Regions from separate parts of the Homo sapiens genome. Here region 1 is linked to region 2. The links come from fine-mapping of genetic effects on gene expression. Tissue or cell type: whole blood. Region 2 holds a variant in brackets; the other region holds the start of a gene. All regions are shown on one strand. Distances are between the middles of the regions.

Evidence for each region. PIP is the estimated chance that this variant, and not a neighbour inherited with it, causes the effect.
Region 1: it holds the start of SH3PXD2B, and the variant in region 2 is fine-mapped to the expression of SH3PXD2B in whole blood (INTERVAL, PIP above 0.99).

The regions. Positions count from the first base shown.
Region 1 is chr5:172,450,725-172,458,904 of GRCh38, forward strand. SH3PXD2B (SH3 and PX domains 2B) reads right to left here and starts at 3,801. Exons shown (of 13, transcript NM_001017995.3): 1 at 3,554-3,801. The coding sequence starts at 3,628. RefSeq lists an enhancer at 2,767-3,288.
Region 2 is chr5:172,391,552-172,399,731 of GRCh38, forward strand. It overlaps SH3PXD2B (SH3 and PX domains 2B), which reads right to left. Exons shown (of 13, transcript NM_001017995.3): 4 at 3,012-3,088. Among named protein-coding and RNA genes, the nearest start is that of SH3PXD2B, 59 kb to the right of the region's middle. RefSeq lists a silencer at 4,021-4,221. The variant CTT/C (reference allele first, on the strand shown) is at 5,065.

The DNA.
Region 1 (8,180 bases), 59 kb after region 2:
AAAACCCACAAATCCTACCTGGAGCTCTTCTTCCTCCCCCCAAGCTGAAGACAAGCTAGCTGGGGAGGGTCTCCCAGGATGTCACCCTCAAAAGCCCCTCTCCATTCATCCCCAAGCCCTCGGGCTCTAGTGCAGGAAAGATGCTGGCAGAGAAAGGCAGGAGCTCCCCAAATCTTCATCTCCCTGCTTCCAACAGAGGGCAGTGGCTCCAGGGAAAGGCTCTCCAAACAATATCATGGTTCATTGTCATCAGCCTCTCAGGATCTCACAGGCACCTGGAGCTTCTGGCCCTGCATTCTCCAGACCTGGCCTGTGGCTCTGCCCCTGGGCCCATGGATGATGTCTCTGCCTGCGGGTGACTGAGGCTGGGGCTGGAGAGGACGCCATTCTGATCATGGAGAAGGCACCATTTCAGAGGGAGCAGGTGGCCCAGCCCTGATGGGCAGCCCTGAACTCCGGGTGCAGTTCTCCAATGACATCTACAGCACCTGTGACCCTGTCCCTCACAGGCAAGTGAGTGATGAGCAGGTAGTGGCCGAGATGGCTGCAAATGGGGAGAGGGGTAGTGGGAAATTAGGGGGCGTAGTGAAGAGGACTCTCAAAAACTGACTTTATAGTCTATGGCGCAGTGGCTGGGGTGGGAATGTGTGTGGTGCTGCCCCCTAGAGGACATGCAGCAATCAATGCCTGGAGGCCTTTTGGGTGTCACAATTGGGAAGGGGGATAACTAGCTGGGTAGAAGCCAGGGAAGCTGCTAAACATCCTGCAATCCACAGGACAGCCCTGAAACAAAGAATGATCCAGCCCCAAATGTCAAAAGTGTTGAGTTTGAGAAACTCTGCCCTTGAGGGATGTAGCAGTATTTACACAGAAGCTAGAGCTCAGAGAGGCAAACCAACCAGTCCGAGGTCACACAGCAGAAAAGTTCAACTCCCCAGCTGATGCTGTCTCTCCAGGGTGGCTTCAGAAAAAGGGATACCAAATGGGAGTCAAAGTCCAGGCCTGCCAATAGCTGCCTTCATGCCCGCTCTTTCCAGATTGTGTGAGGGGTTGGGGTGGAGCTTGGGAACAGCAGCGGTCGCCCACCACAGGGATCTGTTTCCATTGGGTTTGGCCCCCCTGCCATCAAGGCAGTAAATGTTCTCTGTTCCTGTGGATGACTCAGGCTTCAGTTCAGCCCATTGCCCCTCCTCATCTGATGAACCCAGAAGCCTGGGCTAGAAGGGAGAGGGCCTCTTGAATCACATGAGTGACTAAAGCCACATGCAGAAAAACAAGTTCTTGATGAATCCCCCTACCATGTGACTTTGGCATGTTCCCAATCAGTGACAAGATACCTCAGGACAGGCAGGCAGGGAGCTATGCCTTTAGGGCATTTAGGAATGCCCTAAGGCAGCCTGTCATGCGGCTGCTACCTCTAGGAAATGGACACCACCATCCCCATTACACAGATGAAAAAACTGAGGCTGAGGTGACACAGCTACAACCTGGGAGGCCAAGATCTGAATCCCAATCTATGTTTTAACATAGAAACTTGTCTCAGGGGGCCCCCAAAAAGTGGCTGAAAGCTTCAAAAGACGGTTCTCAAAGCGCAAAACCTTCAAAAAACTGGCAAGGATGGAGCTGACACAGCAGAGAATGAAAAGCTTCCAGGTTTTCACTAATGATAAGAGAGATTTCCCAGTTTTTCAGAGGACTTTGCTCAGAGAAACTATAGGGGTACCGGATGTGGGAAGTGGTGTGGTCCTTTTGGGGTCCAGCGGGCCTGGATCTACATCCCTGCTTGGCTCTTGACTGTGACCTTAGGCGTGGGACCTCACTTTGCTGAGCCCTGGTTTCCTCATCTGTCAAATGGGCTTAAGGCCCTCTGCCTGATATGGGCGTGATAGGAGAGGCCAGAAGAGGGCGCGTGGACGATGATGGCCGGGCCTCGGTGGCAGTATCTATTCTCGTTTTTGCCAGCTCACAGACCTGGTGGGAGGTGGCATGGAGAATTCCAGACTTCCTCCAGTTGCCATGTTGGTGAAAACTGTCTTCATGCCAAAGAGGCAAACTCACTTACACGCTAACAGGCTCAAACAAGAAACTAAGATTTGGCAGCATTTGAAAACAGTTAACAAAAAATAAAAAAAGGAAGGAAAAAAAAAAGACAATTTAGCTCAGCTCTGGAATCAAGGGAAACTTCACTCTATATAAAGATGCCACAGGTCCAGGAAATAGCTTCCCACCGCCTGGCTAAGGGCTGAATAACTGGCTGCCCAGCCAATAACAATACAGACTCACACAGCACACCCTTTCTTGTGGAGAGCGCGGAGTGGGTTCCCGGCTATCTCCTTTCAGAATTTCACAGGCTATTCACGGAAGGCATGCAGATCTACTTTGTAAGAATTAGTTCTTAAAAAAAAAAGATCTGAAGACGACTTCCAGGGAGGCCAAGGAGCTTAATTTAGCCAGCCAACGCCCTTTTCTATTCATTGTTCTATACTTCTTTGTTAGGATTTTTTCCCTCCCTCTTACTCTTTTTCCCTTCCTGGTTAACTTCTCTGCAGCCAGGCTCCGCCACTGCCCACTTCTCACCGCCAGAGACACTATAGCCCCCTTCCCTGCTGTAATGAGGCCCTCCCCAAGGCCTCATGTGGGCCCATCACCCCACATCCCCTTTATCTCCACCTAGAACCTGCGAGGTGGTCCCAGGGCCTCCTGAATCTGCAGACGTGTCCCCTAGGTTGCTGCGGAAGCCACTTTCCACCTGCAGGTCACCGTCAGCCCCAGGCACCCCTGCTGGAGGGAGGGAAGCCCGAATGCAGCTCTATGTTCCAGGACCTGCAACCTCTGAGCCTCAGCCTTCCTATCTGCAAAACGACGCTACTGTCCCATTTTCTCAAGTCCTTGCCAGCTCCAAACAAGATTCCCATGTTCCAGAGGGAGATGCCAGGAGAAAACTTTCGTACATTTTAAAACAGAAGTTACTGGAGAGAGGGGGCAGGGGATGTTTTTAACCCTTTAAAGGCGTAGCCACTCAAATGATCCATTCCCAGAGATCTCCTCCATCGCCCAGGCCGGCTCTTGCCAAAGAACGGAGTCAAATTCGGCGAACCCTAGAGGGGCTACCTGTGGCTGGGGACTGCGGGTCTGCGCGCCTCTGGACAAGGAGGGGCAAGGCGGGCGGCCTGAGAACAGGCACTTCTGTCTCTCCCGCTTTCTGTCTCAGACCCCTCACCGGCTGGAGCCAGACTTTTCCACAGATGAGCAGGACGGGAGTTGGGGGGACACGGAGAAGACAGAAAGGGGTAGAGGAGCCGCAGGGAGGCGAGTAGGGGGGCGAGGCGGGAGGAAGGGATGGAGGGGGAGAACGAGGCAAAAGCGGGGAGGGGAGGGGAGGGAGGGAGGAGGAGTCGGGAGGGACCCGGGCAGCGCCGCCGCAGAGCCGAGGGGAGAGCAGGGGAGGAGGGGACGGGAAGCGCTGGAGGCAGAAGTTTTCCAAGCCGGGGGCCCTCGGTCGCCCCCGACGGGGCGCGGGCTCAAGGGGGCGTGGGGGCCGCGCCGCACTCACATAATGCTTGTTGGGCACCCGCCGCTTCTGCACGTCTAGCACCTTCACCTCCACGATGCTGCGCCGCGGCGGCATGGCCGCTCCTCCGCCCGCAGCGGGCCGAGCGCGGGTGCGGGTGGCGCGGGGTGCAGGGAGCGCTGGGGGCGCGCCGCCGCGGGCAGGGAACCTGGAGCTGAGCGCAATCGCAGCCGGGGCCGAGCACGAGCCGCCGCCGCCACCGCCGCCGCCCTTCGCTCGGCGCGCACTCCAGCCGGGCCCAGCCGCCGCCGCCCGCCCCCGGCCCGCCCCCCGCACCGCCCCCCGCACCGCCCCCCGCACCGCCCCCCGCGCCGCCGGCCCGCCCCCCTTAAAGGGCCCGGCCCCGACCCCCGCCCACCGCGCGCGAACCCCGCCGGCCACGTCCGGCCCCCGCCCGGCCTTTGTCCCGGTGCTGAGCCGCCGCGCCGGGGGAGGGGACTGGACTGACCCCGTCGCCCGTTCACTGATTGACGTATCGATTCATTCCAGCACTCTCGCTCCGGCAGCCGCCATCCACCGCCAGTTTGGAGAGCCGGACACCCGGGTTCGAATCCCGGCTTTGCCGCTTTTCCACTCTGTGCCCTCGGCAAGTTGCTTAACCTCTCTGGGTTGGGTCTCTTCGTCTATAATATGAGCCTAGTAGTACAAGCACCATGTTTGTCTTTTTGTGTCTGGCTTATTTCACTCGGCATAATGTCCTCAAGGCTCATCCATGTTGTAGCACGTGTCAGTAGTACCGCCTGCCTGCCGGTGCTGCGCCCGGGATTAAGTGCATGTGAAGCCATTCCGCAGTGCAGTCCATGGTATGAGTGCTGGCGTTCCTAAAGCCACCCCAAGCCCTGGTGATTCAGGAGGAGCAAGAGACCCGTGACCAGGTTCCCCCAGCCTCAGTCTGGGACATGGGGAGTGAGGGAGAGAAAAACTGCAACAAATGCGCATACGTGCAATGTAATTGCCATGGAAGCAACAAAAGGGGATAAAAGGGTGGTGACTATGTGTGAGGGGCAGCTGGGTGCTTGTTAGCAAGGCCATCGATTTCCAGTTGCGGAGCACTTAACTGCTCGCTGGGCCCCGTGGCCCCTGCTTTTCACAAATGCTGTCTTTGCATCCTCAGGCAGACTCTAGGAGGAAAAGGTGTTTTTACAGAGGACGGCCTCCAGACATTTGGACATTTCCAATGAGGCCTGAGGACCCTCTGACTTGGGAACTGTACTTCAGAAGAATGTGCCTTACAGGAATTACATCAGTGAAGGTCCAGAGTCAGGGAGCCGGTGGATGGAGCCCGTCACTGCCTGGCTCTAGGTGGATCTCACACGTTGAAGCTGCCGTGGCTGGGGCAGCTCCTCGTTTCTTCATCTAGTGCCTCCTAGCACTGGCTGGGCACTGAGTCACTTTCAGGAGATGTTGGCTGAATGAATGGATAAATGAATATATAATGCATGGATGGGAGGTTTAGGCTCCTGGCCAGTGTTTTCACAGCCAGTAAGTGGGGGCTCTTTTCAACAAACCGTACGACTCTTCTCCATGCCACGACAGAGCTACTTCCCACCCCGGTCCAGGATCAGCCTTTGGAAAAGGGTGGGCTTATCCAGGGTAGGACGGCTCTCAGCCTCGGCCAGGCCACGTGGATGATTTGGGCTGATTCACTTTGGATCCGCCCCTCCATTTGCTCCTCTGACTTCCTTGCCAGACTTTACCATCCTGCTCCAGCCCCAGAGGCTGGCCTGTGTGGATTTCACTGACAGCTCTCTGTCCTGGTCTTCCTGTTTGGCTTGGCCAGTGGAAGGGCCTGGCAGGAGATTGAGGGCAAGAGGAGAGAGGGAGGTCTGGGTATTTAATCCCTAAGCCCCTCCTCCCCGATTGTTTTTACCAAAGGTGCCCTTTCTCACATGGTCTCTCTCAGGGTTCCTGAAGCCACTTTTCTGCTCAGGACAGTGACAGTCTTGCTGTTGCAAGCCCTGGGTACTACGCCATCCTCGGTGCTTCCTTAGCCCCGCCCACACCCGTATACATTGACCCTTTACTAAACTGTCTTCATGGACCCAGCTTGAGGGTGGCATCTGTTCGGTGCCAGGACCCTCACTCATGTAATTCCTGTAAGGCACATTCTTCTGAAGTACAGTCCCAAGCCAGAGGGTCCTGAGGCCTCATTGGAAATGTCCAAAGAAGTGAAGGTCTGCTTTTCCGTCCCTGCCACATCGTGCATTGCCTTATTAGGAGCCAAGCCTTCCTAAGAAGGCAGAAGCTAGAGGCCCTCTCTGAATCAGCCAGCTTCCTGGGTTTTTCCGGAGAGGCAGAGAGACCTGCCCCCAGCCACACCATGGGTGGCAGAGGTGGGTCCTGCTGGCTGTGTCCGTCTCCTCTGTCTGGGGAAGACAAAGGTCCCCCCACAACCACCAGTAGCAGAAGATGCTATCCCTGCATCTTTACGTATCTTTCCTTTGTTTTACTTTTTTATTGTAGTAAAAAATACATAACATAAAATTTAACATTTCAACCATGTTTAAAGCATACAGTTGAGTGGCATTAAGTACACTCACATTGTTGTGCAACTGTCACCACCATCCCTCTCCAGAACTTTCTCATCTTCCTAAACTGGAGCTCTGTCCCTATTAAACACTGAGTCCCCCCCCACTGCCCCCCAACCTCCTCCAGGCCTTGGCAACCATTGTTCTACTTTCCATCTCTATGAGTTTGACTATGCTAGGTACTTCATATGAGTGGAAACACACAATGTTTGTCTTTTTGTGTCTGGCTTATTTCACTCGGCATAATGTCCTCAAAGCTCATCCATGTTGTAGCATGTGTCAGAATTTCCTTTTTATGGCTGAATAATATTCCATTATATGTATATAGCACTTTTTCTTTATCCATTCATCTGTCAACAGTCACTTGGGTTGTTTTCATCTTTTGGCTATTCTGAATAATGCTGCTGTGAACATTGGTATAAAAATATCTGTTCAAGTCCCTGGTTTCAATTCTTTTGTGCATATACCAAGAAATGGAATTGCTGGATCATGTGATACTTCTATGTTTAATTTTTTTTTGAGGAGCCCCTAAACTGTCTTCCACAGGGGCTGTGGCATTTCGCATTCCCTCAGCAATGCACAAAGGTTCCAATTTCTCTACATCCTTGCCAACACTTGTTATTATCTGTTTTGTTTGTTTGTTTTGTTTTGTTTTGTTTTGTTTGAGAAAGAGTCTTGCTCTGTCTCCCAGGCTGGAGTGCAGTGACGCAATCTCAGCTCACTGTAACCCCTGCCTCCTGGGTTCAAGCAGTTCTCCTGTCTCAGCCTCCCGAGTAGCTGGGACTATAGGCGCCCGCCATGCCTGGCTAATTTTTGTATTTTTAGTAGAGATGGGGTTTCACCCTATTGGTCAGGCTGGTCTCAAACTCCTGACCTCAGGTGATCCACCCCCCTCAACCTCCCAAAGTGCTGGGATTACAGGCATGAGCCACCGCCCCCGGCCTTGTTTTGTTTTTTAAGAGACAGGGTCTCATCCTGTCACCCAGGCTGGAGTGCAGTGATTTTGATCATGGCTTACTGCAGCCTTGATCTCCTGGGCTCAAGGGATCCTCTGCCTCCGCCTCCCTGGTAGCTGGGACTATAGGCACCCACCAGCACATCTGGCTATTTTTAAAATTTTCCTTTTGTAGAGACAGAATCTCACTATGTTGACCAGTCTGGTTTTGGACTTCTGGCCTCAAGTGATCTTCCTGCATTGGCCTCCCAAAGTGCTGGGATTACAGGCATGAGCCACTGTGTCTGGCCTGTTTTTATTTCTTTATTCGTTCATTTGTTTTTGATAATAACCATTCTAATGGATGTGAAATGGAATCTCATTGTGGTTTCGATTTGCATTCCTCTAATGATGAGTGATGTTCAGCATCTTTTCATGTGCTTGTTGGCCATTTGTTTATCTTCTTTGGAGAAGTGTCTATTCAAGTCCTTTGTGCATTTTAAAATTGTGTTATTGGTTTTTTTCTTCTTACCTTTCTATATCACCCATTTACCTCCTAGACAACTTGGGCTTTTCTGAGTGTCCACCATAGTTTTTGGAGAACTGAATTGTGGGCTGGTGATGCAGTTTAGGCTGGCTGTTCAGACTGGAAAGATCCATTTAGGCTCTGCTTGGGAGAACTGCAGATTATCTGCTGATAAAAATCTCAACCCAGATGGTCACTACAATTCACTGGAACTGGACTAGTTCCTTGTCACAAACACAAAACACTTCTGCAAATTCGAGTTCATCAGGGAGCCCAAACCTAAGGGAGAACTCGAATGGAAGAGAAATCCCACTTGGAATTCAAATAGGATTCCAAGTGGGATTTCTCTTCCATTCGAGTTCTCCCTTAGGTTTGGACAAGGATTCCTTTTAGACTCTATATAGTCTAAAAAGAGGAGGGACCCTTCGTTCCAGAAATCCCTGCCCCTTTCTTAGAAAACTCGTGAATAATCCACCCCTTGTTTAGCACGTGATCAAGAAATAACCATAAATATACTTAGACTCGAGCATCCCATGCCAGGGCTCTGCCTATGGGGTAGCCATTCTTTATTCCTTTACTATCTTAATCAACTTGCTTTCACTTTATTCTATGGACTTGCCC
Region 2 (8,180 bases):
TCCTGGATTCAAGCCATCCTCCCACTTCAGCCTCCCAAGTAGCTGGGATTACAAGCGTGTGCCACTAAGCCCGGCTAGTTTTTGTATTTTTAGTAGAGATGAGGTTTCACCAAGTTGGCCAGGCTGGTCTCAAACCCTGGACCTCTGTCTGCCTTGTGATCTGTCTGCCTTGGCACTCCAAAGTGCTGGAATTATAGGCATGAGCCACTGGCCTGGCCATTTTGTTAATGGTACTTTTTGAGATACAGAAGTCTATAAGTCAATTAAATTAAATTCAATTTTTATCAGTTTTTCTTTAAAGGCTCACACTTTTGGAGTCATAGCTAAAAACTCTGCCCAACTCAAGGTCGTGATGAGTTTCTCCTATGTTTTCTTCTAGAAGTTTTACAGTTTTAGCTCTTATATTTAGGATTATGATCCACTTTGAGTTGATTTTCATGCATGGTATGAGATAAGGATCTAACTTCATTTTGAGATAAGGGTCTAACTTCATTTTTTTTTTTTTGCATATGTATAGCTGTTGTGGGTTATAGTGTTTTGCTCTCCACCCCCTATTTATATATTAAAGACCTAACCCCCAAGCCCCTAGAATATGAATATATTTGGAGATGGGATCTTTAAAGAGGTAATTTAAAGTAAAATGAAGTCACTAGGGATGTGCCTTAATCCAATATAACTGTGTCTTTACAGGAACAGGAGATTAGGACATAGAAAGGTACAGAAAAGACCTTGTAAAGACACAGGGAGAAGAGGCATTTCATCTATAAACCAATGAGAGAGGTCAGAAGGCCCTGCTGCCTAGACTTCCAGTCTCCAGAACTGTAGGAAACTAAATGATGTTGTAAGCCAACCAGTTTGTGGTATTTTGCTATGCAGCCCTAGGAAACGAATGCAACAGGTGACTATCTCAACTGTTTGTTAAAAAGACTATCCTTTTCGGCCCAGCATGGTGGCTCATGCCTGTAATCCCAGCACTTTGGGAGGCCGAAGTGGGTGGATCACTTGAGGTCAGGAGTCTGAGACCAGCCTGGCCAACATATAGTGTAACCCCGTCTCTACTAAAAATACAAAAAAAAAAAAAAAATTAGCCAGGCATGGTGGTGGGTGCCTGTAATCCCAGCGACTCAGGAGGCTGAGGCAGGAGAATCCCTTGAACCCAGGAGGCGGAGGTTGTAGTGAGCCGAGATGGCGCCACGGCACTCCAGCCTGGGCAACAGGGCGAGACTCCATCTCAAAAACAAAAACAAAAACAAATAAACAAACAAAAACTATCCTTTTGCCAGTGAATTGTCTTGGCACCTTTGTGGAATATCAGCTGATCAAACATTTTGTAGGATTTTATTTCTGGACTCTCAATGTTGTTCCGCTGATCTACATGCCTATTTTTGTCAGTACCATACTATCCTGATTACTGCACCTTGTAGGCAGTTTTCAAAATGGGTAATATGGCTCATCTAACGTTGTTCTTTTTCAAAAGTGTTTTGACTATTCTGGATCCTTTATATTTCCACATACACTTGAGGATTGGCTTGTCAATTTCTATAAAAAAGCCTATAGAAAAGATTTTGACAGGGATTGTATTGAATATGTAGATTCATTCTGGGAGGAGTTCCATTTTAACAATATTGAGTCTTCCAATCCACAAGTATGGAATATCTCTCCATGCATTTAGATCTTCTTTAATTTTCATTGAAATGTTTTATATAAACCCTGCACTTCTTTTGTTAAATTTATTTCTAAGTATTTTATTCTTTTTGATGCTATTGGGAGTGGGACTGTTTTCTTAATTTCATTTCTGGATTATTTGTTCCTAGGATTTAGAAATACAATTGTTTTCTGTATATTGAGCTTTTATCCTGATTTTACTAAACTCATTGATTTGTCCTAATATTTTTTTGATGGATCTCTTATGATTTTCTGCATAGAGAATCGTGTCATCTGTGAGTCAAGAGTCAATACTCTTTCCTTCCCAATCTGGATGGCTTTTCTTTCTTTTTTGTGTGCTTACACTGGCTAGTCCCCTAGTAAAATGTAGAACAGACATGTAAGGGTAAACATACTTGCTTTGTTCCTGATCTGAGGGGGAGATTGTTCACTGCTCCATTTAAAAAACATTTCTTGCTATTCCTACCCCTCTCCCATCAGAATCGCTAGTGATTTTAACTTGGAGAAACAAATACCAAAGAAAAGCTGCTAAACAATATAAAAACATGCTCCTTTCCTGACTATAGCCTCAAGTCAAATGAAATATAACCAAAAGGCAGGTCTCTTGTTGTTTAGGACGTTCAAGGGACAGGAAGCTGCTGCACCATCAAACAACAGGGATTGGCTAAATAACTTTGGAAGCATGAATGTATAATGGAATACTACGTGGTCATTAAAAGTAGGCTTAAGAGGATTTTTTTTTTTTTGAGACAGAGCCTCACTCTGTTGCCCAGGTGGGAGTGTATTGTGCCATCTCAGCTCACTGCAACCTCCACCTCCCAGGTTCAAGCGATTCTCCTGCCTCGGCCTCCCGAGTAGCTGGGACTACAGGTGTGTCCCACCACACCTGGCTAATTTTTGTATTTTTAGTATAGATGGGGTTTCAACATGTTTGGTCAGGCTGGTCTCGAACTCCTGACTTCAAGTGATCCACCTGCCTCGGCCTCCCAAAATGCTGGGATTATAGGCGTGAGCCACTGTACCCAGTCAAGAGGATGTTTTAATAGTAGGGAAATTCTCACATAATAATTATGGCAAAAGAGAAAGAGCAACAAAATTACACATACAGAATGGTCTCAACATCATTAAGAAATGCACATAAAGAAAAGGTGGAAAGGAAATATGTAAAACCCTTAATAACTAACTGTTGCCTCTAAGTTGAATGATAATGAATGATTTTCCCCCTAATTTCTTTACATTCCTTTGAATTGCACAAATTTTTATTGTTGAGCATCTTGTAGCCAGAAAAAGAAAAGAAAACAGAATACACCTACAGGGAAGACTGCGTGGGCATTTCTCAGCCTTACCTTACAGTATTCATCAATTGGTATCAGGCGTTTGACAGCCACGTCCCGGATGTGGCTTCGTCTGAAGAGAATCTTACCTGCAGAAGATGAGAGCAAAGACAGTGTTGTCAGGGAACAGGGACAAGCTCTCAGCAACCTGAGAGGGTGTGGACATGGCGGTTCCTAGGGTAGGTCTGAGTGGTGCCAAAATTCCTGGCTGCGATCAAGGTACCCCCACTGGACTTCCGTGAGGCTTGGATAAGCCCATGTGAGGTCCCCCTAAACCCTGTTCACAGCTTTAACACAAGGGCTTGGGGGAATGGGACCCACGGAATAAGTTTTGGTGAGATAAGGGAGGCTGGAAGCAACTGTGGAAGGAAGCCGCTCCTACCTGATGAAGAAAGAAGGTTGGACCCGAGCATGTGAGGTCCTGTCCAACTCCAGGATTCTGGCTGGGTGAACAGTACAGTGGACAAACAGACATGCCCTCAGCAATAGTTCAGTCTCCTCCCTTCTCCTCATTCACCCTCTGCCTTTTCCTCATGTTCCCTAAACCCCCGTGCTCTACCATTCTGAGCCCTCCCCTCTGCCTGGACACCTCCCCATGCATCCCCACCACCATCCCTCATAGGGGTTAAGAGTTCCTGGCTCTTTCTGACTGCACACATTATTTATTTTTATAGCACTTCTTCTGTCCTACCAATCATGTGCTCTGCACCAATAGGAACTGACTGCGTCTCAGTCCATTTTGTGACAATAATGTTTGATAAATGTATGAATGTGGCTTCCACCTGCAAAGAGGACAGATCCTTCCAGTTCCTTCCCCAGTTAGTGTTCGTAAGAGAAGGGTTTTGAGTTCTCTTATTTCACCAAATATTAACTGAGAGTCCATGACCTGCTTCACAACATCCGAAACTCTGGGGCATGGGGCTATGAACCACCAATATGACACATGGGTAGAGAATGTGGGTCACAGGAAAACACGGGTATATACATGATGCCACTGAAGATCTCTGGAAATATCCAAGACATTGAAATGTCATGGGCGATGCCTGTTTAAAGCAAATCAGTGGGTTCTCAGAGAGTTTACACAGGATATCCTCTCTTGGGGAGATAGTGGCGAAGCATATGCACTAAGGGTTAAGACCACATGACTCACCATTCTGAATCTACCACACAGTCAGGGGTGGGGGAAATCAGAAATAAGATACAAAGGAGGGCCAAAGACATGGGAGATGGAGATAAGCCTCTACCAAGCTCGTGCAGAGCAACCGGGGGTATCTATGGGTAGGTCAAGGGGAAGGTGTGGGAGGACCAAAGCTGCTCTGGAGAGCAGAGCATGGAGACCTACTAAGAGCTCTCTCTATTTCTGGTCCTAGGAGGTTGGTTAAAAAGAGGAATTTGGGTCAAGAGGCTGGCAAGGTGAAGAGAGATTACTATTGATCTAAGACGGTTTCTGGTGAGATGGCTATCTCCACAGATCAAGCTCGGGCAGGCAGGGATAGGATGGCATAGAAAAGTCTAGTAAGGATTGGGCGTGGTGACTCACGCCTGTAATCCCAGCAGTTTGGGAGGCCGAGGTGGGTGGATCACTTGAGGTCAGGAGTTTGAGACCAACCTGGCCAACATGGCAAAACTCTGTCTCTACTAAAAATACAAAAAAAAAAAAAAAAAAAAAAAAAATCAGCCTGGTGTGGTAGCATGTGCCTGTAGTCCCAGCTACTCAGGAAGCTAAGGCAGGAGAATCACTCGCATCTGGGAGGCAGAGGATGCAGTGATCCAAGATCATACGACAGCACTCCAGCCTGGGTGACAGAATAAGTGAGACTCCGTCTCAAAAAAAAAAAGAGGCTAGTATAGTAAGAATTTTCATATGACAGAACTGGAAGGAATGTTGAAAAACAACCCTACTGACTTTTAAAGATTTGCAATGCAAAGTGGTAAAGGAGATTTGCACCCTAAAAGACCATGTAGCTAATCCAACATTTTAAACAACTGGACAACTTGCTCTGGTGCAAAAGGACACTATTTGGAAACTAGGTAGACAAGGTAAATTTAAAAAAAGAGAGAAAGC[CTT/C]TTTTTTTTTTTTTTTTGCTCATTTTCACCAATTAAAAAAATATCTAGGCTGGGTGCGGTGGCTCACGCCTGTAATCCCCACATTTTGGGAAGTCAAGGCAGGTGGATAACCTGAGGTCAGGAATTTGAGACTAGCCTGGCCAACGTGGTAAAACCCCGTCTCTACTAAAAATACAAAAATTAGCTGGTGGCACATGCCTGTAATCCCAGCTACTCAGGAGACTGAGGCAGGAGAATCGCTTGAACCCAGGAGATGGAGGTTGCAGTGAGCTGAGATCATGCCATTGCACTCCAGCCTGGGTGACAAGAGCAAAACTCTGTCTCAAAAAAAGAAAGAAAAAAATGTAGATGAATACGTATCACAAAGTATCACAAGGGAGATAACCTTTAGGTCTGGCTGCCTGAGAGCCAGGCGGAACAGAGCCATATTTCTCTTCTTTCAAAAGCAAATAGGAGAAATATTGCTGAATTCTTTTTCTCAGCAAGGAACAGCCCTGAGAAAGAGAATGCATTCCTAGGGGGAGGTCTCTGAAATGGCCACTCTGGGAACGTCTGTCTTTTATGGTTGCAGATAAGGGATGAAATAAGCTCCGGTCTCCTGTAGCGCTCCCAGTCCTATTAGGATGAGGAAATTCCCGCCTAATAAATTTTGGTCAGACCGTTGTCTGCTCTCAAACCCTGTCTCCTGATAAGGTGTTATCAATGACAATGCATGCCCGAAACTTCATTAGCAATTTAAATTTTGCCCCGGTCCTGTGATCTTGCCCTGCCTCCATTTGCCTTGTAATATTTTATTACCTTGTGAAGCACATGATCTCTGTGACCCACACCCTATTCGTACACTCCCTCCCCTTTTGAAAATCACTAATAAAACTTGCTGGTTTTGCAGCTTGGGGGGCATCACAGAACCTGCCGACATGTGATGTCTCCCCCGGACACCCAGCTTTAAAATTTCTCTCTTTTGTACTCTTTCCCTTTATTTCTCAGACTGGCCGACACTTAGGGAAATAGAAAAGAACCTACGTGAAATAACATTGAATTATTGGGGGCGGGTTCCCCCGATATCTGGCACCCAACATGGTCTTTCTTTTTTCCTAAGTGCATGTGGGAACCCAATTCCCTTTGGTAGAGATTTACTGGCACAATGGGGGGCTGAAATTAATATTCCACGTAACTCTTATAGTGCTCCCAGTCAGCATATGATGGAAAACATGGGGTTTGTTCCTGGGCTCGGTCTCGGTCCAAAGCATGAAAGGATTACTAAACCCCTCCCAGTTACTGTAAAAGAAAACAGGGCGGGTTTAGGTTATCCTTTTTAGTGGCGGCCGCTGCCACGCCTCCTGATCCTATCCCTTTACAATGGAAATCTGACACACCTGTTTGGATTCAGCAGTGGCCGCTCTCTAAAGAAAAACTGGAGGCTTTAACTCACTTGGTTTCTGAACAGTTACAACTTGGAAATGTGGAACCTTCTCCTTCCCCCTGGAATTCTCCTGTGTTTCTGGTAAAAAAGAAATCAGGCAAGTGGCGGATGGTAACCAATTTAAGGGCTATTAACACTGTAATTAAACCTATGGGGGCCGTTGAAACCGGCATGCCTGCCCATGCTTTAATACCTAAAAATTGGCCTCTCATAGTTATTGATCTTAAAGATTGTTTTTTTCATATTCCTTTACATAAATTGGATTGTGAAAAATTTGCTTTTACTGTACCATCTATCAATAGTCAGGAGCCTGCAGTTCATTATCAATGGAAAGTACTTCCTCAGGGAATGCTAAATAGCCCTACAATCTTCCAGCTTTATGTTGGGCAAGTGCTTTCAACAGTTTGAGCCCAATTTCCCCAGGCCTATATTCTTCATTATATTGATGATATTTTAATTGCTGCCCCCACTGATAAAGAATTAATTGACTGTTATCAAAGTTTGAGCCGCCGTGTTACAGAGGCTGGATTACACATCACTCAGGATAAACTTCAACAGACCACTCCTGTTCAATATTTAGGAATGGTGGTCGATAAACAACATATTCAACCTCAAAAAGTTCAAATTAGGAAAGATTCTTTGAAAACTTTAAATGACTTCCAAAAACTTTTGGGTAACATTAATTATTTAAGACCTACTTTAGGTATTCCAACCTATGTGCTGTCTAACTTGTTTTCTACACCATGGGGAGATTCCAATCTCCGCAGTCCCAGGACTGACCCCTGAGGCTTCACTAGAACTGGAATTCGTAGAGGAAATTCCAGTTATCTAGAGTACAGCCGTTTCAGCCTTTTCAGCTTCTGGTTTTCGCTTCATTACACTCCCTTACTGGACTAATAGTTCAACATAATGATTTAGTGGAGTGGTGTTTTCTTCCTCATTCTGTGTCAAAAATTTGTCTGTTTATCTAGATCAAATGGCCACCTTAATTGGACAGGCTCAGTGTAGAATACTTAAAATTTCCAGATTTGATCTGAATTTAACTGAAGTTCCTTTAAAACAGCTTGAAGTTCAAGCTGCCTTTCAACATTCCATACTATGGCAAATTCACTTGGCTGATTTTATTGGCATTATTGACAATCATTATCCAAAGAACAAATTGTTTGATTTTATAAAAATGACATCTTGGGTGGTCCCTCGATTAACCAAAGATCAGCCCATTCCTGAGGCCGTTACAGTGTTCACTGATGGCTCCAGAAATGTAAATGCTGGTTATGTAGGTCCTACAAACAAGCTTATTTCTACCCCTTATACCTCTGCTCAAAAGGCTGAGTTAATTGCTATAAATACTGCCTTACAGGATTTCCCCAAACCTTTAAATATTGTCTCTTATTCTACTTAACATGGGAAAGAGGATATGCTTGTGTTTCACCAGGAGATCATCAAAAGAAAACCGCAGGGAAAAGACGTCCGCGTCAGAGACTGCCCTCAGACGTGGTGAGATCTGTGCCAACTCCTTAGAAGCCGGCACACCAAATCACAATGGGTCTGATTCAATCCTCCTTGATGGCAATGGAGACCCATCTAACTAATTCCACTTTTCCTGATTGCCTTTCTTTTTCTCCTTACAAACCTAAAAATCTCACCATTTCTATTAGCCTGACAATAACATCCCTCTGTTCTTCTCTTCC